4 linked regions of the Homo sapiens genome follow. The protein of the gene in region 2 purifies or fractionates together with the protein of the main gene of each other region. This does not show direct contact. Each region holds a gene or a part of one and is shown on either strand. Other genes may lie near its edges.

Evidence for each region.
Region 1: the proteins of TXNDC5 (region 2) and SPTB purify together in Homo sapiens (affinity purification with mass spectrometry; 2 studies listed by BioGRID and IntAct, with this or other methods). This does not show direct contact.
Region 3: the proteins of TXNDC5 (region 2) and KLHL26 purify together in Homo sapiens (affinity purification with mass spectrometry; 2 studies listed by BioGRID and IntAct, with this or other methods). This does not show direct contact.
Region 4: the proteins of TXNDC5 (region 2) and WDR59 purify together in Homo sapiens (affinity purification with mass spectrometry; 2 studies listed by BioGRID and IntAct, with this or other methods). This does not show direct contact.

Annotation. Positions count from the first base shown.
Region 1 is NC_000014.9:64,771,898-64,778,925, forward strand, and holds part of SPTB (spectrin beta chain, erythrocytic), read right to left. Parts: intron 3,855-7,028; coding exon of another isoform or gene 3,753-3,854; exon of another isoform or gene 3,522-3,752; intron 3,507-3,521; coding exon 3,228-3,506; intron 2,631-3,227; coding exon 2,500-2,630; intron 1,528-2,499; coding exon 1,323-1,527; intron 1,058-1,322; coding exon 683-1,057; intron 1-682.
Region 2 is NC_000006.12:7,881,008-7,886,807, forward strand, and holds the end of TXNDC5 (thioredoxin domain-containing protein 5 isoform 1 precursor), read right to left. Parts: intron 5,037-5,800; coding exon 4,954-5,036; intron 3,482-4,953; coding exon 3,352-3,481; intron 2,260-3,351; coding exon 2,137-2,259; 3' UTR 510-2,136; downstream 1-509. UniProt on the Homo sapiens protein: Protein disulfide isomerase of the endoplasmic reticulum lumen involved in the formation of disulfide bonds in proteins. Can reduce insulin disulfide bonds.
Region 3 is NC_000019.10:18,640,023-18,647,050, reverse strand, and holds part of KLHL26 (kelch-like protein 26), read right to left. Parts: intron 2,414-7,028; exon of another isoform or gene 2,385-2,413; intron 1-2,384. UniProt on the Homo sapiens protein: May play a role in endo(sarco)plasmic reticulum (ER/SR) mitochondrial signaling. May be part of the ubiquitin-proteasome system (UPS) and affect ubiquitination and degradation of target substrates in cardiomyocytes.
Region 4 is NC_000016.10:74,975,107-74,982,134, forward strand, and holds part of WDR59 (GATOR2 complex protein WDR59), read right to left. Parts: intron 1-7,028. UniProt on the Homo sapiens protein: As a component of the GATOR2 complex, functions as an activator of the amino acid-sensing branch of the mTORC1 signaling pathway. The GATOR2 complex indirectly activates mTORC1 through the inhibition of the GATOR1 subcomplex.

The sequences.
Region 1 (7,028 bases), on a different chromosome or scaffold from region 2:
TCTCCCTGCTGCACTGGAAGCTGGGGGAGCCCTCAGCAACAGGGGCCCCCTTGCATTTGCCCTTTCTATCACACCAAGCTCTGGGGCACCCTACGGATCTGCGGAGGGCACTCCAGTGATGGGGCAGGGGTCTGAACAGTAGAACTTGGGGGCTCTCCAGCTCCCATGTGGAAAGGCTGAAGTGCCCGGTGGCTAAGTATGTGGGGTCTATAGCTAGACTGCCAGGGTCTGAGCCCTGGCTCCACTTCGTACCTACATGTTCCTGGGAAACTTATGGGTCTTCTACCTCTCCCTTTTCTCATCTACAAAGTGCAGGGAATATTAGTAGCTGCCTCAGAGGACTGCCATGAGGGTCCAGCGGCTACATACATTGCTCAGAAGAGCACCTGGTGCTAGAAAAGTGCTGTGCGTGTGTCCACTAATAGTACTGCACAACTGGAGAAACTGCAACCGTATAGTATTGTATGCATTGGCCTTTTGTGAGGATTCAGTTTAAAGAATGACTTCTGAAGCTAAGGAACATCTGAAAGCCACTGCTCCCAGCCCTGAGCTCCTGGCTGTCTAAGGAGGCAAAACCTCCTGGCACTTATCCTAGAGGTTTTCCTGCTGACAGCCAGGTGGGGACTGACACCCAGGGCTCCTGGAAATTGGTAGCAGGTGGGCGGCAGGGGGCTGAAGGTACCTGGACACCCAGCAGGTGGAGCTCCCGCTCGAAGGCTGTGTGCACCCGGTGGAAGGACTCGGCCGTGCTGGCGTCCAGCCCCACGTCCTCGGGCAGCTCGCGGTGCTTCTCGTCGATGAGGCCCAGGATCTCGGCACCCGTGTAGAAGTAGCGGTGCAGGTCATAGGAGGCGGCCAGCAGCTGCATGCGCGTGTCAATGAGCTCCAGGAGGTCTGCCCACATCTCGTTCAGCCCGTCCTTCCACTCGGCGATGGTGGCCGCCTCGCTGTGGCCCGCGTCGATGAGTCGCTCGATGAAGGCATTCACATTGTCCACCCGCTCCTGCCCAATCGCCCCGGTCTCCCGGGCAAAGTCCCGGAACTTGTCCCGCAGAAGCTAGGCATGGGGCAGACAGAAATGTGGTTATGGGGGGCACAGGGGTTACAGGTGTCACCAGCTTAGCCAAAGACTTTCCCAGGCAGCAACTGCAGCTCCGGGAGCTGCGCTGTCACACCTTCCCCAGGGCAGGCCTGCATCGGCTGGTCCCGCCTCACACTGGGGAGGTTACGTCCTATGCAGCACTCTGTGTGTCTTGAGTGACGGCTGGCTGCGTCTACCGCATTAGAGAAAGACAAAAACAGCAGGAGTTGTGGCTACTCACAGTCACGTGGTCAAAGTCTTGCCCCATTTCCGGGGAAGAGGCCACTAGCTCCTTTTCTGAAATCCACTGCTCCAGGTCGTCGGTCTCCCGCTTGAGCTGGAACAGGTGGTACATGTTCTCCAGCTTGCGCTTGCGCTCTTCCGCCACGTCCTTCAGCCCTGCGTAGTGCTTGTCCACTTGCCCCTGAAGTCTGATGATCTGTTCCCTGGAATTCAAAACCAAAAAGGCCCTCAGAGACGGCAGCCACGAACCCAGAGCCGTGGCTCCAGGGAGCCAACATATGCCAACCACAGCCCCCTGGCAGGGATAGGTAGGGAGTGAAGCTCTGGAGAAATGACAGGGGCTTTGCCGGGGAAGAGCTGGGGAGAGAAGGGGCCACACCCTAGCCTCAGGGGATGACACACTGTGTCCTGGAATTCTGTCCTGGAGGGGTGCTTCCCATGGTGCCCCTCACTCTGGCAAGCTTACAGGGACAAGTGCAAATGGGGAACGCCTCCATTGTTCTTCCAGAGAGGCTGGGGGAGCAGCACTACCTGAGTGGGGCTCCCGCAGCAACAGCTCTGCTCAGCCCTCCAGGGAGGGAAAAGACATACTAGGGGCCCAGACAATGTGGCTCCCAGGGAAACCTCTGGGGTGGCTGCTGAGGACCCACAGTGGTGGGCACCCTAATGGCAGCTGAGGACAGGGCCATGGCTGGGGGCAGTGTGTGGTCTGTGGCCCAGTGGGCTTCCATTTATGCAGGATCCACAAAACCTCGCAGCCCATGTGGGCACAGGTTTCCACCTGCACTCCTACATCATGGTTCTGTCTGGACTGTGAAGTCCTGGAGACCTTCTGGACCATAAAAATAAAAGCTAAAGTAGTCTTCAGTGTCCCTTAGCATATTGTAACCCTTCGGAAAATTGGTGCTCTCAGGTCACCAAGAGGGTAGTTTTGCTAACCCCTTCTCTGATCATTTCGAAAACCAGGGCCTCGATGGCCCAGCTGGAAGTGATTCACACAAAACCAAGGCATAAAATGAAATTGGATCCATCACCAGTCCCGCAGCAATTTTCTCCAGCCCTATTTGATGGGAAAACTCTTTCCATTTTCCTTTTAAATCTGAAGGGACGTTGGCTGGTGGGCCCCTGGCTCAATCCCCATCTCCTGACCGAGTCACCACAGGGGGCGCACGCACCCCTCAGGGTGGCCTGCAGACAGCAGGCCCTGGGCCCGGCTGGCCAGCTGCTTGATGTTCCGGCCGTAGTCCTCCACCGCACGCTGCTGCCGCAAATGTCGCTTCAGCATCACAATGGCGCCCTCTTCATCCTAGGAGGCAGCAGACGGTCAGCGCCAGAGCTCAGTCTGGCCATGATCCCTCCCTTGGCAAGTTGTGCCCCCACTCCTGGAGGTGCCCGAGGGAGGAGGGGAGTAGGCTTGTGGGACACCCGCAGGAGAGCCACACATGCTTCCTTCCTGCCCTTCTGATTTCCCAGCAATGCCCGTGCCCTACCTTCCTCTCTGGACTCCCCTGATTCGTATCCGACATATACCCTTCCTTTTGTGCTCTAACCCCTGTCCCCATGAAAACATCCTATATCATTCCAGCTTTGAGAGACCCCCACCTGTCACCTCTCACCCCATCTCTTTCATAGCGTACAGAATCCAGGGTAAAGAAAAGTAGAGAACCCTTGGGTTAGAGCAAACCTAAGTGGGTAAACAGGAGGCACCTGGCTTCAGTGTGTGCCCTGCAGGGGTGTGTTCAAGGAGGCACCAAGGGAGGGCAGGGAGTCTGTGGGTTCCTTGTGCCCCTCCCCTGGCCTCACTCCTCACACAGTTGGACTCACAAGGCTCCCTACCGACAGCCAACCTCAACTCTTCCTCTCTGCCTGGGCACCCTGGCTGGTATCCCCTGCCCGAACAGACCTTGGGGATCTCATCGGAGATGACGTAGAGCTCCTGCTCGCCAATCCAGGCCTCAGCCTCGTCTGCATCCAGGTAGTACTGCTGTGCCTCGTTGGCGTCCCTCAGTCGCTGCAGCCTCCCGGCCGCTGCCTCCCGCAGCCTGTCCCAGGAGCTCTGCAGGTGCCCCAGGCGCTCCTCAAGGTCCTGGCAGTCGATCTCCGCCGCCTCCACCAGCTGCTGCCCTCTCTGCAGCACATCCTCAACCCGCGGCGTATGGCCCAGAATCTCATTCTGCAGTGTCTGCGGCCAGAAGGAAGGGCTCGGGGCAGGGCCTTCCCACCATGCGGGGGAGGCTGCTTCAGCAGTGGCAGCACAGCTCTGACACCCTTGGTCCCTCTCACCCCCGTTGCTAGAGCAGAGCAGGTGATGGCGATAAGAACTACCAATGACCTCTTGCGGGCTGCTAAGCACCTCATGTGCACCATTCTTGCACCCTCAGGTGGCCTGCTGAGATAAGCATGTGGAGACCAGCATGCAGCAGTGAAGTCACTCAGTGGCAGAGCCGGAGTTGAACACAGCTCCACCTGACCTGGCAGCCTGTGCTCTTGACTGTCCCCTATCTTCCTGTGCTTCAGCAGAGCTTGATTCCTTAGGTGTATGTGTTGGAAGGAAAAGAAAAATGGCCTTTTTGATACCTTATTCTAACAGCTTTTGCAGGATTTATGCAGGATCATTTACGCAGGATACGCCCAACCCAGCAGCTCAGGTGGGCACAGTTTTTGCCTTCCATCTAAAAGAACAGGTGACAGCAGCCCCTTGCTTACAGTCTCAGCTTTTGTTTTTCCCTACTTCTATTTCTCATATTTTTGTGAGCTTTGCATTAGTCCCTGTTTGAGCCTTTGGTCATGAACACAGCCTCTTCCTCCCACCCTGGTGGCTGGTCACCTTTTTCTTCAGGAGGCCCTGACACGTGTTACTTGTTTTCTGGGTCCTAAAGACTGGGCTAGCTGCTGCTGGTGTGTGGGCTCCTGAGCTCCATATACCTCACTACCTGTTTCTTCCCTCTCTATATAATTTTCCTGTGGCCTTTAAAATTGGAAGGCAGGGGCAAGAGCAGCCCACATGAGCAGCACAGTGATGGCCAGCATTTAAAATATGCACAAAATAACCACATCTACAAGTCACATAACCTGCTGAAATGCATTTTTACACTTTATGCTCAGAACCTCAATTTTTACAATTTCCTATAGTCTCTGCAGTTGCATTCAAACAACCCATGTTTTCAGCTCCATTTGCTTGTTTACTCTGAGATCTTATGACCTCTGCATGGTGCCCTAAAAATTAATTTCTTTTTTTTAAGATAGGGTCTCACTCTAGTCACCCAGGCTGGAGTGCAGTGGCACAATCAGCTCACTGAGCCTCAACTTCCCAGGCTCAGATGATTCTCCCACCTCAGCCTCCCAAGTAGCTTGGACTACAGGTATGTACCACCACATCTGGCTAATTTTTTGTATTTTTTGTAGAGATGGGCTTTTGCCATGTTGCCCAGGCTGGTCTCAAACTCCTGGGCTCAGGCGATCCACCCGCTTCGGCCTCCCAAAGTGCTGGGATTACGGGTGTGAACCACTGCGCCCGGCCTAAAAGGGTATTTCTTCCTTTTTAACCAATTACTTTCTAGTATCTGTGCAGGGTACTTACATTTAAAGTCTTCTTCCCTGTCTTCATTCATTCAACAACTATGTATTAAGTTCTTTTCTATGTACCAGACCCTGGTCTAGGTAATAGGGACAATATAGAAACAAGAGAAATGAAAATCCCTGCACTTTAAAGCTTACAACCTGGTAGAGGAAATAGAAGGTAAACATGCAAATAAATGAATAAACAAAGGCTGGGCCTTCCTCCCTGGGGGCTACGAGGAAAAGACAACAGTGGGATGGAGAATGTCTGCTGCGATGTGGCAGGAGCCACTTTAGCTAAGGGAGTCAGGGAGGGCCTCTCTGAGGATACGAAACTTGACCATGACATGAATGACGGGAGGGAGGCAACCACACAGAGATCTGGGGTTGAGTGTTCCTGGCAAGAGGACTGAACAAGTGCAAAGGCTCTGGGGTGGACATGAGCTGGGACCGTCTGAGGCCACAGAGAGGGCCAGAAGAGCTGGAATACTGTGAAGGAGGGCAAAGTGAGAAGAGCTGAGTTTCAGAAGCAGGCAGGGGTCAGGTCAGGCAAGAGTGGTTCTTAATCCTGATTGCCCACTGAATAATCCAGGGAAACAGATGCAGCTAGGGGCCTACCCCCAGAGATCCTAATTGATCTGAGGTGAGACCTGGGCATTCATCTGTCTAAAAGTTCCCTAGGTGATGTGAGTGTACAGCCAGGGGTGAGAGCCCTTCATGTACTACCTTGTGGAATTTGTTCTAATTGCAATGAATAGCCCTGGGAACAGTGGTCCCCAAAGTGCAGTCCTGAACCAGCAGCATCGGCATCACCTAGGATCTTGTTGGAAATGCAAATTATTAGGCTCTACCCCCAGAGCTTGATGCAGTAGGGATCTGGGGGTGGCACCTGGTTAAGTCGTGTAAACTCACCCAGAAGGCTTGTTAAAGGAGTTGCATATTGGAGTTTGACAACCATTGCAACAGAGGGTTTTAGGTGAGGAAATGATAAAATTGGATTTATGGTTTAGCCAGGTGAGCCTAAAATAGTCTTCATTAGGGCAGTCACGCTGTCCCAAGAGGCTGCCTTTCCCTTCTTGGTTAGGGGAACCCCATCCGTATTTGTCTTGCCCTTTTCCCGAAATAGCAACTGCCAGCCAGGGGAGTTAAAAACCTTTGAACAATAACACTTACAGAGGCTGCATAGAATCAAAAATCCTAGTGTTGGAAAGACTAGAGTTGGCTCATTTTACAATTAAGGAAACTGAGGTCCCAAGGATACCATGTCCTACCAGCCTTCCACCTTTAGCTGAAGGTTGTGGCATTAACTGAGGCTAGATTTCTATCATCTTCTAGCCCAGGTCCCTGCGTGTGGCTGCTGGAGCCTCTGCGACTAGATCATGTCAACCAGAAGCAAAGGGCCTAAGGCAGCTTTGAAGAAACTTCTCTGAATATAATCTAGGCCTCTGCACTGCTGCTGGGCTCACATGGTCCTGTGAGCAGATGTCAGCTGCTGCCAAGCTGGGGGAAGGGAGTGCTGTCTGCCATGACCTTCCTTCCTCAAGGAGCTGCAATACTAACCGGGCACTCTGGGACATGTCACTTTTATCTGGGATCTAAGTTCCTGGGCTCTCCTTGCTGACCCAGAGAGCATGCAGAGGGAGGGTCTCTCTGTCCAAGAAGGGTCTGTGGCCATTCCCCTGGCCGCTGCGACCCCACACAGCCAGCTTCCTTACATGATTCAGGCTCCCACTGCAGCCCTGACCCAAGAGGGAGTGCTTGGCATCTGCTCACATCCAGGATCCTGACCAGGGCCACAGGAGTTCCCAATCAGGGCTAAGCGAGTGCCAAAAAGCAGAGGGATGTTTGCTCCAAGGGCTCAGAGTCCAAAGTTAGTGGCTTCCTAATGGAATTTGAGCCCCACAAGTATCCTCATATGTCGAGAGAAATGGGGCCTACTTACCCCAAGGACACCACACATGCCAAGCTCAGCCCTGGAAGAGGGGCAAGGCAGTGTTGTGGGAGAGAGATCAGGAGTTACTGCCCTCCTCTCAGGCAGACCACTGGATACACCGAATACACAGCTACTGAAGCACATCAACCTCCAGGCCAGGCCCCCGAGATCCTGCATTCACCTGTGCCTGATGGAGGCTGAATGGCCCTGAAT
Region 2 (5,800 bases):
TACCAAAAGTAGACTGATTACACTGAGGTGAGGCTACAAGGGGTGTGTAACCGTGTAACACGTGAAGGCAATGCTCACCTCTTCTTTACCAGAACGGTTCTTTGACCAGCACATTAACTTCTGGACTGCCGGCTCTAGTACCTTTTCAGTAAAGTGGTTCTCTGCCTTTTTACTATACAGCATACCACGCCACAGGGTTAGAACCAACGAAGAAAATAAAATGAGGGTGCCCAGCTTATAAGAATGGTGTTAGGGGGATGAGCATGCTGTTTATGAACGGAAATCATGATTTCCCTTGTAGAAAGTGAGGCTCAGATTAAATTTTAGAATATTTTCTAAATGTCTTTTTCACAATCATGTACTGGGAAGGCAATTTCATACTAAACTGATTAAATAATACATTTATAATCTACAACTGTTTGCACTTACAGCTTTTTTTGTAAATATAAACTATAATTTATTGTCTATTTTATATCTGTTTTGCTGTAACATTGAAGGAAAGACCAGACTTTTAAAAAAAAAGAGTTTATTTAGAAAGTATCATAGTGTAAACAAACAAATTGTACCACTTTGATTTTCTTGGAATACAAGACTCGTGATGCAAAGCTGAAGTTGTGTGTACAAGACTCTTGACAGTTGTGCTTCTCTAGGAGGTTGGGTTTTTTTAAAAAAAGAATTATCTGTGAACCATACGTGATTAATAAAGATTTCCTTTAAGGCAGAGGCTGGTCGAGATGCTGCTGTTATCTTCTGCCTCAGACAGACAGTATAAGTGGTCTTGTTTCTAAGATTCCTACCACCAGTTACTTTGGGCCAAGTATCCACATCCCCTTGCGTATGGGAGGTGGGTGAAGAGTGTTGGATGCAAAGTGGTTATTATGGGAAGTAGCTCGATGGTAAAAGGACAAACACCTATCTATCTTAGAGCTTAAGCCTGTATGTGCTTATTCCCAAGGGAGATAGAGGTGTTTAATCACAAGGACAGCATGAGTTAGAGGACACTGGCATCAACAGCTGCCACAGCCGTGCACACCAGGGCCAGAGCAGCCCACTGACATCTGTCTTTGGTCTTGAGATCAAATGCATCCCATTCTTCATACATTAGAAGGTCGACCTCCTTGAAGCAGACCAAGTATAGCAAGCCTCTAAAAGGACTACTGAGAAACAGAATCAGAAACTCTAGAACTCTAGTTAGGGCCCTTCAGCAGGGCTGCAGAGCCTCCCTGGATACCCAGGCCTGGGAAAGCCTGTCTGGTCTTGTCACCCCAGGTGACAAATACAACTGGAATCTTTCAATGAGTTAATGAGATACTGAGAATGAGCCTCGTGGAATTTTCCATGCCTACCCTTTCTAAGGAAGACATCCAACAGTTCATGTGGGCTCTGGCTTCGTGTTAACATGAGGAACTAAAGACATGTTTCACCCCGTGAGAAACAGAAGGATCCCCTGAACAGTAACTGATTTGACAAGTATCGACACATAAAGTTATGGCATCAGCATTCTCTTACTCAGGCACGGTCAGAAGTAACGCTGCTTTCATCACGGCTAACCTCTCACACTGAGAGAAGTATTCACAGCAACAGAAGCTCCAGCAGCGGCCGTGAAGGTATCTTCCAGAGGTGTGGGTTTTTGCATTTCAATCTGCTCCATGCTACGGACCAACACAGTATTGAGTCAACTGTGACCTTAAGATCAGAGGAACGTCAATACTGCCACAAGGCCACCTTTCCAGAACTCGTGGGCAGGTAAACTATGCTTTGGATGTGCTTTCTTTCACCAAAATCACTCAACTCAGGAGCCACAAATAGTCCAGCAATTTCATTTCCCTCAACGCTATTTTAGTCTCAAAGGAAACCATGTAAATTTCATCAAGAGAAGGTCAAAGGGGATATATCGCCACTGAAAATGTTTACACAGTGACCATGAGTTACACATTTACTTAGAGAAACTTAACTTAATAAAGAATCTGTAGAGTGTGTTGGCTTGGAAAACACACACACAAAGAAGATACCTCACGCTTAGTATGTTCTGCTTTCTGAACAGCCACCACTGGGAACCCAGTGGCCTCTGTGGGACTGAACTCCTAAACGCAGGGTGCGGGAGCTGGGCAGGAGAGGTGACCTCCAACTGTGTTCCTAAAGTTCGTCTTTCGCTTGGCTCAGGACAAAGCGGTGTAACGAGTCAAGGTCTCTGCCTCCACTGTGCTCACTGACTTTCTTCCCTCCTCGGAAAAGCAATAACGTGGGGTAGCCTCGTACCTTAAAACAAAAAAGAAAAAAGTTTGCAAACCAGCGGTCCAGATCACATGCAAATTGCTTCCTAAATAAAACCAGATACACTCCTACCGTTGTGGCTGGAAAAATTCTGTGGCTAATTTTTAAAGGTGTATATTCCATTAAAACAGGAGCAGACTACTGTTTAGAAAGCACAGCCGTGGGGCTGTGTGTTCACTTCTGAATTCAAAATGACATCATTAAAGATCAGCCTCAAAGGAACGACTTTACCCTAAAGCAGACGCTTTCAGTCTTTACTGTGCACACGATCACCTGCGGATCTGCTGAAGGTGCAGATTTGGATTGAGCAGGCCTGGGAGTCTGCATTTCCAATGACCTCCCTGGCGATGCCCTGGTGGTCTGCAGACCAGACCATGAGAGCAAGATCCTCTTGAGGATACATGTTTCAGTGGCAACTCGTTTCTAAGAATTTTAGGGCACAAAAAACAACTGGTATCTTTTAATGATAAGGAAACTATGTCTGGGTTACGTCTATTCTCCATCTAAAGGGCTCCAAAAGTGTCTGAATAACAAAGAAGAAAAAAAATGACAAATCTTCCAGGCCATCAGACTGTGCTAACAGCTTGGAATGAAGGCAGTAGTTAACCCAAGCACAGGACCGACTTGCTGGCATGGCCCTTTCAGAAAGGAGGTTATGTTGAAATGATTCTTAGATTCAGCCACTGCATTTTATAATGCTGGCTTATGTGTGAAAAATGAGCGACTCGGGTATTTATGGCAAAGGCTACAGACCACTGGTCAATCATCAAGAGTCGCGGTGTGGGAAGCCCCACAGTCTATGGCGTGGGGTCTGTTACTTCACGGCCTTGTTACTCAGACAGCAAGGCCTGAAAACCTGCACTGAAACATGGATACTAACTACAAAGCGGGCGAAGAAGAATGCCTTCCCTTTGAGAGAGGATCTCTTTTGCTTCTCCAAACAAACAACTCAAAGGGACATAAAAACCACATTGTTGAGAAGATGAGAGCAGAGTGAGTTATCGTGGTTGAGGCACAGTTCCCTTGGGATCTGCCCCCATACTGAGAGCTCCCATAAGCATCCATCCAAGTACCCACCGAATACTTGCTGCAGATATTCCGTTCAGCAGTGCAGTCTACTTCGGCGATCTTGACCCCCGCCAGACCAGGGAATTCCTTTTTAGAGAGTTCCTCCCAAGTAGGAGCCAGAGTCTTACAATGACCACACCTAAGACGAGAAAAATGGCAGCTTCGTTGAAATCCTGGGTCGAGATCATTCACCTACACTCTGCTGCCAAGACAAGCTCTGTTTCTTCTGTATGGGACAGTCAACAATTGCCTAGAAATTTGTAAAATACCAAATTCTCCCACTGGGTGCACATTAACTCTTCCTCCTCCTATCCCAAATGAAGAACCCAAAAGTTGATCCAAGGTAGACTTTCAGATAATGTGACAGAAGCAAGCCAGTCTCAAAACAAGTTGAGATTCTGAGACCATTTCCATGCCATGGTGAACTGTGCTAACTGGTTTATGAAAGCACAGGAGCAGAGGAACAGGGAACAGGGCAGATGCCACACAATTTCTAAAAGGTCACTTGAATGCCAAAGACATTTTAGATTTGATTGCTTATGGTCTCACAATTTCAAAACCATTTTAAGGCCTCCTTGGTACTTCAGCGATGTGGGGTGAGCATCAAGGCCATGATTAAGTTTGGTTCAAACCCTCCCTTCTACCCGACTCTGTTCCCTTGTCTCTTCTGACCCCCTCCTGCCGTATGGATGGCTCCCCTTCAGCCAAAGGGGATCCTCCTTTTTGATACTTGATCTGTGGAGCTTTAGGTTTTTAAATGTTGCAAATGATTTGAAAGGCATTGCTATGGTTCGTTCAAGTCCTGTGCTTATTAACTTTTTACCCCTATGGTTAGTTTCTCAGGAACATGTGGAGTGTAACAAACAAGAAAAGTGACGCCTTTATCATGTTTAGATAAACAATCTACTGTTGTCCTAACACTCTGCTTTTCCAAATGGATTGTTTTATTTGTGAAGACAAAAAGTTACTCCCATTTTTCAGCTGAGGGAACTGGGGTTCAAAGGAATTAAAGGACATCCAAGTTTACTATACAGTCATTCACGGTAAGTCTTAGAACCAAGGTTGTCTGGATCTCACACTACCTGCAATCCATTTCTGCTCTGGTCTCCAAGACCACGTGGCATGCAGGTTCAGGAAACTGCGTAGCATACTGAATGGCTCTAACAGACTCTACTGGATTTCTCTACAAAAGAAATCCGAGTACTTAAAAGAACCGAGGAGCAAAGCTACATCATGACACTCATTGTTTAGCCAAAAAGAAAAGCCATCTATTTGGAAAAGTGCAGATACCACAAAACTGAATATGGCCATCATAATTTGCCTCCATTTTTATGTTTTCTCCAAAGTTGATATAACTTTAGCCTCATTCTCCATATATAATCAAAGTTGATATAACTGTAGCCTCATTCTCCATATATAATTAAGGCCATTGAAGTTTAAAATATTTGAATATAGGAGCATGATAACGGTTCCTTATTTCCTACAACATGACCTACATATAAATGTAACATGTGCCCAACATTGAGTCTGGAGGGGTGGCAGATGAGCTGAAAAACATGATGTGACTTAGTACACATGGACAAAGTAGTTTCTAATTAAACAGCCACTTACCATGGAGCATAAAACTTGATGAAGGTTATTCCTTCTGCAATGGTGTCATCGAAGTTATTTTCAGTGAGTGCCAACACAGTGCCCTTCAAGGGAGGAAAAAGCCACAGTTCAAGTACATCCCTTAAAGTTGAGCAGGGCCATGCTTTGGGATTGCAGATACACGAATCAGTAATTTTTTAAAAATGCAGTTACGTAGGCTCCAAGGTCACACAGAAATACCTACACAATCTGCATTTCATAGGCTACACACAAAGGGAGGCTGGCAGCCTCTGAAGGGCAGAGAGATCAATGCAAGTCCCTGGGTCCCAAGCCTGGGAGATGTGGTGAGGAGGTGGCTGGACACTGTACAGGGGATGAAGGTGGGGAGGGGGACTGTCTTTTGGGGATGAGGCAGGTTGAAAACTCTCCAGGGCGCTGTGGTGTGGACCAGGCAGCCCTGGGTGTCTGACACTTGAGTCTGCACCTCTAAGCCTGGAGTCTCCAGGATACCCACTGAAGTCTCATCCTCAGCCGCTTTTCTCACTGGCCACCCTATTCTCCTAGCACCCTTTGTGACATCCTCTCTATGCAACAGAAAGAACCTAGTTACAATAGCAAAGGCAATGATACCTGTTTTACATTGAACATAAAAATGGAAAGCAGCCTGTTCTAAGTCAATGTGAAAAACGCTGATGGAAGCTCTGGCTGGAGAATTTAAGGGAAAGGTGCTACATGGTAGTCTGCTTTAAAGCCATTCTCCCTTGACAGTTCTTTACAGAATGACGTCTATGTGTTTCTCCAAAAATGGATCTGCGATTCTCTCCTGAGAGCAGGAATGGGATGATTTATCACGTGGCTAAGTGTACCA
Region 3 (7,028 bases), on a different chromosome or scaffold from region 2:
CTCGGCCTGTGGGCCAGTGCCCTTCTTGGGCTGGCCCAGTTCCACCTGCCCCCATCCCTGCTGAGACGCGCCACCCCCCGCCGCCCCTGCCCCCGCCCTGCCGAGCTCCTGCTCCCAGGCCTACTCCTGGCGGAACCTGCCCTCTCCAGCTCACGCTGGACGTGCTCTACTCTCTCGCTGCCCCTGCTGCTGTCCCTCTTACGGCCCAAGTCATGGCACTACTGTCTTCCCAATGGCTCAAGTTCACCCTCTCCTTTCCCTGCCTGACACACGCACGCCACATCAAGGCTTGCTGGCATTGACGATCCCCTCAAGGCCCATGCGGGCATGGCGGGCAGAAGGATGGCAGTGTCCCCATCATGGGCGTCAGCACTGCCACAGTAACACTGATGAGGTACATGTGACCTCTCCCCACTCGTTTCCTCCCAGACACCCCCCACCTGGTGGGCCTGGAGCCCCATTTCCCAGATGAGGAATCTGTCACAGCCACAACCCATAAAGAGGGAGCCACAGTCACCCATGGGTATGATGAGACACCTCATGCCGCCATATCTGACCACATTTTCCAGGAGAAGGACTTGAGTCCACGTCTTGGAAGGGTCAAAATCCTCCTTCTGAAAGGGGCATGAGGCCGGGCGCACTGGCTCATGCCTGTAATCCCAGCACTTTGGGAGGCCAAGGCAGGTGGATCACCTGAGGTCAGGAGTTCGAGACCAGCCTGGCCAACATGATGAAACCCCATCTCTCCTAAAAATACAAAAACTAGCCAGGCATGGTAGTGGGCGCCTGTAGTCCCAGCTACTTGGGAGGCTGAGGCAGGAGAATCACTTGAACCCAGAAGGCGGAGGTTGCAGTGAGCCAAAATCATGCCACTGCACTCCAGCCTGAGCTCAGAGTGACGTCAAAAAAAATTAATAATAATAAAAAAGAAAGGGGCAAGAGGCCAAAGGAATGAGAACTTCCCCAAAGTAGCAAGAACCTCCTTGGGAAGCCACCTCTTCCCCTAAGTCTTCCTAGCAGGAGCTGGGGGGCTGGACCCTTCCAAGGCCTCTGGGCTTGGTGGAGATGATCTAGATTGTGGAGAAAGCTTCAACAGGCAAAGGCCACCCAGCCAGACTGACTGTGACAAACCCACCGGGCGCAGCGTCTCGGCCACAACTTTCCATGCAAACACTTTCAGCAGGCAGCAAAGCCCCTGGGCACAACGTCCCAGCCATCACTTCTTTTTTTTTTTTTTTTGATACAGAGTCTCACTCTGTCGCTCAGGCTGGAGTGCAGTGGCAGGATCTCGGCTCATTGCAACCTCCTCCTCCCAGGTTCAAGCGATTCTCCTGCCTCAACCTCCAGAGTTGCTGGGATTAAAGACGCCCACCACCACACCTGACTAATTTTTGTATTTTTAGTAGAGAGGGGGTTTCACTATGTTGGCCAGGCTGGTCTCAAACTCTGGACCTTGTAATCTGCCTGCCTTGGGCTCCCAAAGTGCTGGGATTACAGGAGTGAGCCAAAGCACCCAGCCTAGCCACCACTTCTTATGCAAATGCCTGAAGCTGGCACATCCCTCACCCAGATCCCCCCACCTCACCCCCAGGAACAGCATGACTCAGTGAGCCTGGGCCCTACCCAGGCGTCTCCAGGGAGCGTGGGCCAAAAAGCGTGGATGCCAAAGGCCCATGTCGGAGAGGCTGCAAGGCCAGAAGGTTCCTCCAAAACTCTGCCGGTCAGGTACCTCACAGTGACAGAATTTTAGCTGGGGAGGTGCGACTCCCCAGAGGGTTTGCCTCCCCTTGCGACACCCCAAGTGGCCCAAGCCTCCTTTCCCTCCAAGGAGTCTAGACCCCGCGGCCCGAGCTGGGAGGAGGCCAGCTGGTGAACAAGTGTCCTTTGTGCTTGCAGCAAGGACCCCACCTCCTCTCCGCACACCCCAGCCAGGGCAGCCCCACTCTGTCCATCCCTGAGGTTCGGCTCAGTCATTAATGACCACCTCTACTAGGCAACGGGTTTTTTGTTGATCCCTCGAGATAGGAAGGAAGGAGAATAAGCTTTTCTCTTTCTTTTTTCCCCCTCGGTTGCAGAAGACAGAAGTTGGAACAAACAAGTTATATAACGTTGGGGGCGGTCGGGGGTGGGGGAGCGCAGTCCCTCCTGGGGACAGTTTCTTGAGTTGTGGTACCGCTGGAAGGGCCAGGGGGAAGACAGGAACTGCCCCCGCCCCTGGCCAAAAGACAAAACCTTCGTGGGACAAAAAGGCAGATGCGGGCGTTGCCTGGCAGGCTAGAAAGGCAGCTAGAGACTAAGGCCAGCCCCCACTGCCCCCCAGCAGCCCCACAAGCCTCACTGGAAAGGCAAAAGATCGACCTGATCCCATAGAAGGGAATTCCTACCTGCCAGACTGCAAGCCTCAGAGAGCAATAAGCTTTTGCACACCCCCATCCCTCCCTTCCTCCCTCTCAGCCACGTCTCTGGGACACTTCCTCCTTCTGTGTCATTCATGTTCCAGGCACACAAGAGGGCACAAGAGAGACAGGCTTTCCAACCTCAAGGCACCAGAGAAACACAACAAATAACGTTAGGTGGTGACCAGCATGATCAAGAATATACAACAAGCATGCGCCCCAGCAATTCTGCTCCTAGATGTGTACCCCAAAGGACTGAACATGAGTGTTTAGACAAAAATGTGTACACTCATGTTCATAGCAGCATGATTCATAATAGCCAAAAGGTGGAACCAATCTAAGTGTCCATCAACAGATGAATGGATGATGTGGTGCATCCACACAGTGGAATATTACTCAGCCATAAAAAGGAATGAAGTGCTGATTTAGGCTACAACATGCATGACCCCCAAAGCATCATGCTGAGTGAAAGAAGCCAGACTCAAAAGGCCACATAGTGCATGATTCTACCTATAAAACTTGAAAACGGATAGAGACAGACTGCAGATTGGTGATTGTCAGGGGCTGGGCAATGGAGAATAGGGGGTTAGTGCTAATGAAGATGGGGTCACCTTTTGCGGGGACAAAGATGTTTTGGAACTGGACAGCAGTGATGGTTGCACAATTCTGTGAATGTACTAAATGCCACTGAATTGTTCACTTAAAGTGGGTGAATTTTGTGTTACATATATAGTACCTCAAAAACAAAAAACAAAAATACAGGTTGGGCATAGTGGTTCATGCTTGTAATCCCAGCACTTCGGGAGGCTATGGCAGGAAGATCACTTGAGCCCAGGAGTTCAAGACCAGCCTGGGCAACATAATCAGACCCCATCTTGGCCGGACACAGTGGCTCATGCCTGTAATCGCAGCACTTTAGGAGGCCAAGGTGGGCGGATAACCTGAGGTCAGGAGTTCGAGACCAGCCTGACCAAGATGGAGAAACCGCATCTCTACTAAAAATACAAAATTAGCCAGGCATGGTGGCACATGTCTGTAATCTCAGCTACTCGGGAGGCTGAGGCAGGAGAATCGCTTGAACCCAGGAGGCGGATGTTTTGGTGAACCGAGATCATGCCATTGCACTATAGCCTGGACAACAAGAGCAAAACTCTATCTCAAAAAAAAATAATAATAAGACCCCATCTCTATAAAATAATATATATATTTTTTAAGACAGTCTGGTTCTCTCGCCCAGGTGGGAGCGCAGTGGAGCGATCTCAGCTCACTGCAACCTCTGCCTCCCGGGTTCAAGTGATTCTCTTGCCTCAGCCTCCCGAGTAGCTGGGATTACAGGCACGTGCCACCAATCCTGGCTAATTTTTGTATTTTTAGTAGAGAAGCGGTTTCACCATGTTGGCTAGGCTGGTCTCAAACTCCTGACCTCAAGTGATCTGCCCACCTCGGCCTCCCAAAGTCCTAGGATTACAGGCATGAGCCACCGCGCCCGGCCCAAAACAATTTTTAAAAATTAGTCAGGTGTGGGCTAGGCACAGTGGCTCACGCCTGTAATCCCAACACTTTGGGAGGCCAAGGCAGGTGGATCACGAGGTCAGGAGATCAAGACCACCCTGGCCAACATGGTGAAACCCCGTCTCTATTAAAAATACAAAAATTATTTGGGCGTGGTGGCGTGCACTGGTAATCCCAGCTACTCAGGAGGCTGAGGCAGGAGAATCGCTTAAACCCAGGAGGTGGAGGTTGCAGTGAGTCCAGATTGTGCCACTGCACTCTAGCCTGGGCGACAGAATGAGACAATGTCTCAAAAAAAAAAAAATTAGGTGTGTTAGTAGATGCCTGTAGTCCCAGCTACTCGGGAGGCTGAAGCAGAAGGATAGCTTGAGCCCAGGAGGTCAAGAAGGCTGCAGGTAGCTACGACACTGCATGCCAGCATGGGCGACAGAGTGAGACTCTTCCTCAAACCAAACCAAACAAACAAACAAAAAACCACAAGCCGGGCGCAGTGGCTCACGCCTGTAATCCCAGCACTTTGGGAGGCCCAGGCAGGCAGATCACCTGAGGTCAGGAGTTCCAGACCAGCCTGGCCAACATGGAGAAACCCCACCTCTACTAAAAATACAAAATTAGCCAGGCTTGGTGGCAGGCGCCCGTAATCCCAGCTACTCGGGAGGCTGAGGTAAGAGAATCAGTTGCTTGAGCCCGGGAGGTGGAGGTTGCAGTGACCATGCCACTGCACTCCAGCCTGGGCAACAAAAGCGAAACTCCATCTCAAACACACACACACACACACACACACACACACACACACACACACACTAGGTGACTAGCAAAAGTGTCCTGGGGACTACTTGAGCTTGCATGGTCAGGCAGGTGGCTCTGAGGGGCCAGAACCTTGGAGAGTGGAAGGATGAAGAGGAAGGAGACGTGGGCAGGTTGAGGCGAGGAGGTGGGTCGTGCTCCAGGCCTGGCTGTCCCATTTGCAATAAATGAAGGAACAGACGAACAATGCTACAAAGACTCAATGTCTCAAAATGACTTTTGGGAGAATGTCTTGTACCAATCTCCCTCAAAATATGATCCATTTTCTGCATGCTCCATCTTGCCACATTAGGGGTTCTCCCCACACTAGCACCTGAGGCATGAGATGCCCCTATCAGTTGCTCCAAACAGTGATTTTTCACTAGGATGGAGGATAGGGGAGAATGACAAAGATGTCTTTTAAGAAAGAGGGCCGGGCATGGTGGCTCACGCCGTAATCCCAGCACTTTGGGAGGCTGAGGCGGGCAGATCACAAGGTCAAGAGATCGAGACCAGCCTGACCAACATGGAGAAACCCCGTCTCTACTAAAAATACAAAAATTAGCCGGGTGTGGTGGCACACGCCTGTAATCCCAGCTACTCGGGAGGCTGGGGCAGGAGAATTGCTTGAACCTGGGAGGCAGAGGTTGCAGTGAGCCAAGATCACGCCACTGCACTCTAGCCTGGGCAACAGAGCAAGCCTCCATCTCAAAAAAAAAAAAAAGAAAAAAGAAAAAGAGCCGGGTGTGGTGGCTCATGCCTCTAATCCCAGCACTTTGGGAGCCTGAGGCAGGCAGATCACCTGAGGTCAGGAGTTTGAGACCAGTCTAGCCAACATGGTGAAACCCCGTCTCCACTAAAAATACAAAAATTAGCCGGGTGTGGTAGCATGCACCTGTAATCCCAGCTACTCGGGAGGCTGAGACATGAAAATCGCTTGAACCCAAGAGGTGGAGGTTACAATGAGCTAGGATCGCACCACTGCACTCCAGCCTGGGCAACAAAGCGAGACTCAGTCTTAAAAAAAAAAAAAAAAAAAAGGCAACCCAACTTAAAAATGGCCCAAACATTTGAAAAGACACGTTACCAAAGAGATGAATAGCTAAGAAGCTCATGAAAAACTGTCCAACATCATTAGTTATTAGAGAAATGCAAATTAAAACCAAAATAAGACTGGGAACAGTGGTGTGCACACCTGTAATCCCACTTATTCCAGAGGCTGAGGCCCGAAGATTGCTTGAACCCAGGAGTTCCAGGGTGCAGTGAGCTAGGATCGCACCATCGCACTCCAGCCTGGGCGACAGAGTGAGACCTCATCTCACAAATAAATAAATAAATAAAAACACCAAATGAAGACACCAGCACACACCTATAAGAATGGCTAAAACTAAGGACTGGCCATACCAGGTGTTAGTGAGGATGAGGAGGAGCTGGAACTCTTGAACATTGCTGGTGGGGATGCAAAATGGTACAGCCACTTTGGGAACAAGCTTGGCAGTTTCCTAAAAATTAAAACATGGCCAGTCTCAGTGGCTCACACCTGTAATCCCAGCACTTTGGGAGGCCGAAGCAGGCGGATCCCCTGAGGTCAGGAGTTCAAGACCAGTCTGGCCAACATGGCAAAACCCCGTCTCTACTAAAAATACAAAAATTAGCTGAGTGTGGTGGCGCATCCTTACAATCCCAGCTACTCAGGAGGCTGAAGCAGGAGAATCACTTGAACCCAGGAGACAGAGGTTGCAGTGAACAACTGCTGGGCAACAGAGAGAGACTCCATCTCAAAAAAAAAAAAAAAAAAAAAAAAATTAAAACATAGCCAGGCGTAGTGGCTCACACCTGTAATCCCAGCACTTTGGGAGGCAGAGGTGGGAAGATTGCTTGAGCCCTGGAATTCAAGACCAGCCTGGGCAACATGGCAAGACTTTGTCTCAACAAAAGCACAGAAAAAATAGCTGGGTGTGGTGGCATACGCCCTTGTAGTACCTACCAGCTACTTGGAAGGCTGAGGTGGGAGGATCACCTGAGCCCAAGGAGGTAGAGGCTACAGTAAGCCGTGATTGCACCACTGCACTTCAGCCTGGGCAACAGAGTGAGACCCTGTCTCAAAAAAAAAGAAATTTAAACACATCTACCATATGAACTAGTCATTCTACTCTTAAGTATTTACCCAAGAGGATGAAAATATACGTCCACACAGAGACACATATCCAGATGTTCACAGCAACTTTATTTGCAGTTGTCAAAATGGAAACAACCCAACAGTCCATCAACCAGTTAATGGATAAACAAACTGTGTCCGTCCATACGAGATTGTATGGACGGACACAGTTTGTT
Region 4 (7,028 bases), on a different chromosome or scaffold from region 2:
TCCCAGCACCTTGGGATGCCAAGGTCGGTGGATCACCTGAGGTCAGGAGTTCAAGACCAGCCTGGCCAACATGGCGATACCTCGTCTCTACTAAAAATACAAAAATTAGCCAGGCATGGCAGCACACACCTGTAATTCCAGCTACTCGGGAGGCTGAGACAGGAGAATCGCTTGAACCCAGGAGTTGGAGAATGCAGTGAGCCTATATCGCGCCACTGCACTCCAGCCTGGGAGACAGCAATACTCTGTCTCAAAAAACAACAAAAAAAAACAAGGCTGGGCACAGTGGCTTATGCCTGTAATTCCAGCACTTTGGGAGGCCAAGACGGGTGGATCACCTAAGGTCAGGAGTTTGAGACTAGCCTGGCCAACATGGTAAAACCCCGTCTCTACTAAAAATACAAAAAATTAGCCGGACATGATGGCAGGCGCCTGTAATCCCAGCTACTTGGGAGGCTGAGGCAGGAGAATTGCTTGAACCTGGGAGGTGGAGGATGCACTGAGCCGAGATCATGCCACTGCACTCCAGTCTGGGCAACAAGAGTGAAACTCCGTCTCAAAAAAAAAAAAAGTAAAAAAAAGAAAAAAAAATTTAAAAAAGAAAACTGAAGCTTAGAAAGGAAGTAACTTGCCCAAGATCACATGGAAGACAGGTGGCATAACCTAAATCTTAACACAGTCTGGCACGAAATCCTTAACGTCTTTGTTCTTCTCCCATTCATCACCACATCTTTATATTAAATTTTCTAGAAAAAAAAAATAGGCCAGGTGCAGTGGCTCATGCCTGTGATCACAGCACTTTGGGAGGCTAAGGTGGGAGGATCACTTAAACTCAGGAGTTTGACACCAGCCTGGGCAACACAGTGAGACCCCCATCTCGATGTTAAAATACACATATATAAATTTATTTAAAAAAGAAAAAATATTTCACAGTATACATATTAATAGTCACTTACACCAAAAAGTCCTATTCTGCCCCTCCATCTCTATAGTTTTTCAAAATGAACATTGTATGAAACTAAAAAAGTAGGAACCGAAGCTGGATTGCTCCAGAAAAACACACAGATTATTAATTACTTATAATTTTGCTCCTAGCCAAATAATTTGAGTTGTGCTTTTTTATTTTAGTTTTTATTAGAGTAAAACACAGTCCTCAATCTTTATCTTTGTGGCAAAGCTGTTGCAATGCTGAGACTAATAAATCACCAACCATTATTAGGTCAGAAGAGAGTATACTTTCTGCTGAGATGATTCATTTTCAATTTCAAGATAAAAGAAAATATTGAGGAATTTCTTTATGAATCTAGGATACGAACGTTTTTCTTTTTCTTTTCTTTTTTTTTTTTTTTCTTTTGAGACGCAGCCTTACCCTGTCGCCCAGGCTGGAGTCCAAGGGCGCAATCTTGGCTCCCTGAACCTCCACCTTTTGGGTTCGAGCGATTCTCCTGCCTCAGCCTCCTGAGTAGCTGGGACTACAGGTGCCCACCACCACACCTGGCTAATTTTCTGTATTTTTAGTAGAGACAGGGTTTCACTGTGTTAGCCAGGATGGTCTCGATCTTCTGACCTTGTGATCCGCCCACCTTGGCCTCCCAAAGTGCTGGGATTACAGGTGTGAGCGACCAAGCCCGGCCTAAACATTTTTCTTAAGAAGACTTAAAAAGAATTTGGGAGGCCATGGTAGGTGGATCATTTGAGCCCAGGAGTTCGAGACCAGCCTGGCCAACATGGCTCTATAAAAAATACAAACATTAGCCCGGCCTGGTGGTGTGTGCCTGCATTTCCAACTACTTAAGAGGCCAAGGCAGGAGGATCATTTGAGCCCAGGAGGCAGAGGTTGCACTGATTCAAAATCACGGCACTCCAGCCTGGGCGACATTGCGAGACCCTGTCTGAAAACAAAAACAACAAGACTGAAAAAGCATAATCCATAAATTTAACTGCATTAAAATTAAAGTTCTGTTCATCAAAAGACAGCACATAGCTGGGAGTGGTAACTCACAAATACAGACACAGTTACTTGGGAGGCAGAACCAGGAGGATCATTTGAGACCAGGAGTTCAAGGAGGCAGTGCACCATGATCGTGACTGTGAATAGGCACTCCAGCCACAGTAACAGCGAGATCGCATCTCAAAAAAAAAATTTTAATTTAAATTAAAAAAAAATTTTTAATACCATAAAAAGAATGAAAAGGCAAGCTACAACTTGGGAGAATGGATTTACAATATATATAACCATACAGAACTGGAATCCAGAAAAATTTTTACACTCTTCTTAATCTATAAGAAAGAGACAATGCAGCCGGGCGCGGTGGCTCGCGTCTGTAATCCCAGCACTTTGGGAGGCCGAGGCGGGCAGATCACGATGTCAGGAGATCGAGACCATCCTGACTAACACGGTGAAACTCCATCTCTACCAAAACTACAAAAAAATAGCAGGGTGTGGTGGCGGGCGCATGTAGTCCCAGCCACTCGGGAAGCTAAGGCAGGAGAATGGCGTGAACCCGGGAGGCGGAGCTTGCAGTGAGCTGAGATCGTGCCACTGCACTCCAGCGTAGATAACAGAGCAAGATTCTGTCTCAAAAAAGAAAAATAAATAAATCAATAAATAAAAATTGGCCTTGATACTTATCTACTTATAGCAGCTTTCTTCAGTCACTAAAAACTGGAAAAAAACTAAATGTCCATAAACAGGTGAATGAATACACAAATTGCAGTCTATATACTGGAACACTACTCAGCAAGAAGAAGGAATGCACTAACAGATAGGCTCAACAACAAGAATGAATCTCAAAAGCACTAGGCTAAGCAAAAGACGCCAGGTAGGGTGGTGGCTCATGCCTGTAATCCCAAAACTTTGGGAGGCCAAGGTGGGAGGGCTGTGTGAGGCCAGGAGTTCAAGACCAGCCTGGGCATCAACAGCCAGATTCCACCCCCACAAAAAATTTTTAAAAATTACCCAGGACTGGCCAGGCACAGTGGCTCACGCCTGTAATCCCAGCACTTTGGGAGGCCAAGGTGGGTGGATCGTGAGGTCAGGAGTTCAAGACCAGCCTGGCAAAGATGGTTAGCCAGGCGTGGTGATGGGCTCCTGTAATCCCAGCTACTCAGGAGGCTGAGGCAGAGAATCGCTTGAACTCAGGAGGCAGAGGTTACGGTGAGCCGAGATCGTGCGACTGCACTCCAGCCTGGTGACAGAGTGAGACTCTGTCTCAAAAAAAAAAAAAAAAAAAAAAAGAGCCAGGCCTGGTGGCATATGCCTGTCGACTCAGTTATTCAGGAGGCTGAGATGGGAGGACACTTGAGCCCAGGAGCTGGAGGCTGCACTCAGCAAGGACTGTGCAACTGCACTCCAGCCTGGGCAACTGAGAAAGATTCTGTCCCTTCAAAAAACAAAACAAAACAAAACAAAAATGAAAGCCAGACTCAAAAGGCTACACATCATATCACATGATTCCATTTGTTATAGAAATCCCATCAGCAGCTGCCAGAGATAAGGGATGGAGATTGAGTACACAGGGGGACCAAGGAACTGTTTGGAGTGATGGAAACGTTCTACATCATGATTACGGCAGTGGTTACATGACTACATCCATTTGTCAAAACCCAACAAACTCTACAATTATACCTGCATAAACCTGGATTTTTTTTTTTTAATCACTCTGGCTATATGGAAGATAAAATGGAAGAAGGAAATGCTACTGTGAGGGAAGAGTTGTCTCCAAGTATGTTCAGCTGCTTTGGACATACAGAGCTTGATTTTCTCGCAGATCCTGAAGTGGAGACACGAAGTAGGCAGCCACCGTGGGTCTGCAGTTCTTCTCTTCAACACAGGAGTCATCCACTGCAGCACTTTTGCAAATATCATTAGGTTAGCCTTGTAACTGCACATTCCAGCATCTTACCTTTCCTTGAGAGTGAAAACTAATCTCCACACTTCTCAGTACTCTGAACTGTACTTTCCAATATCATAGCCATTAGCCACAGTGGCTATTTAAATGGCAATTAAAATGCCATAAAATTGAAAATACATCTGTCGCACTAGCCCCATTTCCATCATCACTGGAAGTTCTACAAAACAGTGATGCTCTGGGCCAGGCGCGGTGGCAGCATTTTGGGAGGCCAAGGCGGGCAGATCACGAGATCAGGAGATTGAGACAATCCTGGCTAACACAGTGAAACCCCATCTCTACTAAAAAATACAAAAAAATTAGCCAGGCATGGTGGCGGGCGCCTGTAGTCCCAGCTACTCGGGAGGCTGAGGCAGGAGAATGGCATGAACCCGGGAGGCGGAGCTTACAGTGAGCCAAGATCGAGCCACTGCACTCCAGCCTGGGCGACAGAGTGAGACTCTGTCTCAAAACAAAACAAAACAAAACAAAACAAACAAACAAAAAAACAGTGTTGCTCTGGAAGATTACCTGCAAGTTGTGTGTTTTTTTTGTTTTTTTCAGATGGAGTCTCGCTCTTGTCACCCAGGCTGGAGTGCAGTGGCACGATCTAGGCTCACTGCAACCTCCACCTCCTGGGTTCAAGCGATTCTTCTGCCTCAGCCACCCGAGTAGCTGGGATTACAGGCACCCACCACCACACCCGGCTAATTTTTGTATTTTTAGTACAGATGGGGTTTCACCATATTGGCCAGGCTGGTCTCGAACTCCCAACCTCAAGATCCGCCTGCCTCAGCCTCCCAAAGTGCTGGGATTACAGGTGTGAGTCACCACACCCGGCCTTTTTTTTTTTTTTTTTTTTTTTTCTTTGAGACAGAGCTTCACCTTGTCACCCAAGCTGGAGTGCAATGGCGTGATCTCAGCTCACCACAACCTCCAACTCCTGGGCTCAAGCAATTCTCCTCCCTCAGCCTCCCGAGTAGCTGGGATGACAGGCATGCACCACCACGCCCAGCTAATTTTTATTGTATTTTTAGTATTTTTAGTAGAAACGGGCTTTCACCATGTTAGCCAGGCTGGTCTCGACTCCTGACACAGGTGATCCACCTGCCTCGGCCTCCCAAAGTGCTGGAGTTATACGCGTGAGCCACCATGCCTGGCCTAAGTTTTCTTATAGTGTTAACACTCATTGATGCCAGGAAGCACTTCACAGTAGTTGCCAAGCAGCACAGGCTCTTGATTATTAATTAGTGACAGTAATAGCCCAAAGCATTGTTTCATAAAATAAATGGCACTTTTATAAACTATAAAAAAGACTTTCACACTTCAGACTGGGGTTTTCCTCTGAAAAATCTAAGTCTTTTTTTTTTTTTTTTTTGAGACAGAGTTTCGCTCTTGCCCAGGCTGTAGTGCAACGGTGCGATTTGGCTCGCTGCAACCTCCGCCTCCCAGGTTCAAGTGACTCTCCTGCCTCAGCCTCCCGAGTAGGTGGAATTACAGGCACACGCCACCATGCCTGGCTAATTTTTGTATTTTTAGTAGAGATGGGGTTTCACCATGTTGGCCAGGCTGGTCTCAAACTCCTGACCTCAGGTGATCTACCTGCCTTGGCCTCCTAAAGTGCTAGGATTACAGGCGTTAGCCTACGCCCAGCCAAAAAATCTAAAAGTTTTAATTTTAAAAAATTATTTTCAGACCAGGTGCAATGGCTCACATCTGTAATCCAGCGCTTTGGGAGGCTGAGGCAGGCATATCACTTCAGGTAAGGAGTTCAAGACCAGCCTGGCCAACATGACGAAACCCCATCTCTACTAAAATACAAAAATTAGCCCGGTGTGGTGGGGCACGCCTGTAATCCCAGCTACTCAGGAGGCAGGAGAAGCACTTGAACCCAGGAGGTGGAGGTGACAGCGAGCTGAGATTGCGCCACTGCACTCCAGCCTGGGCAACAGAGCGAGACTCCATCTCAAAAATAAAAAAATATATATTTTTAGGCCAAGGTGGGAGGATCACTTCAGCTCAGGAGTTCAAGACCAGCCTGAACAAGAACGTAAAGCCCCATCTCTGCAAAAAAAAACACACAAAAAGGCCGGGTGCGGTGGCTCACGCCTGTAATCCCAGCACTTTGGGAGGCTGAGGCGGGCGGATCACAAGGTCAGGAGATCGAGACCATCCTGGCTAACACGGTGAAACCCTGTCTCTACTAAAAAAAATATATATATACAAAAAATTAGCCAGGCGTGGTGGTGGGCGCCTGTAGTCCCAGCTACTTGGGAGGTTGAGGCAGGAGAATGCCGTGAACCTGGGAGGCAGAGTTTGCAGTGAGCAGAGATCATGCCACTGCACTCCAGCCTGGGCGACAGAGAGAGACTCTGTCTCAAAAAAAAAACAAAAAAAACACACACACACAAAATTGTGGGGCTTGGTGGTGTGCACCTGTATTCACAGCTACTCAGGAGACTGAGGTGGGAAGATCACTTGATACCATAAGGTTGAGGCTGAGGTGAGCCAAGATTGCACCACTGCATTCCAGCCTGGGTGACAGAGCAAGACCCTGTCTTACACATATATACATATATATTTTTTGTATTTTTTTAGACAATACATATACATTTACATATATATATATATATATATATATATATATATATATATATATATATATTTTTTTTTTTTTTAGATGGAGTCTCACTCTGTCGCCCAGGCTGGAGTACAGTGGTGAGATCTTGGCTCACTGCAACCTCTGCCTCCCAGGTTCAAGCTATTCTCCTGCCTTAGCCTCCCAAGTAGCTGGGATTACAGGTGCATGCCACTATGGTCGGCTAATTTTTGTATCTTTAGTAGAGATAGGGTTTCACCATGTTGGCCAGGCTGGTCTCAAACTCCTGACCTCAGGTGATCCGCCTACCTCGGCCTCCCAAAGTGGTGGGATTACAGGCGTGAGCCACCACGCCTGGCCATATATGTATATTTTTTAGGCCAGGCACGGTGGCTCACGCCTGTAATCCCAGCACTTTGGGAAGCTGCAGCAGGAAAATCACTTGAACCTCGGAGTTCAAGACCACCTGGGCAAGATACAGAGACTCCTATCCCTATTTAAAAAAAAAATGCAAAATGAAAGAAATTTAAATATTTTAA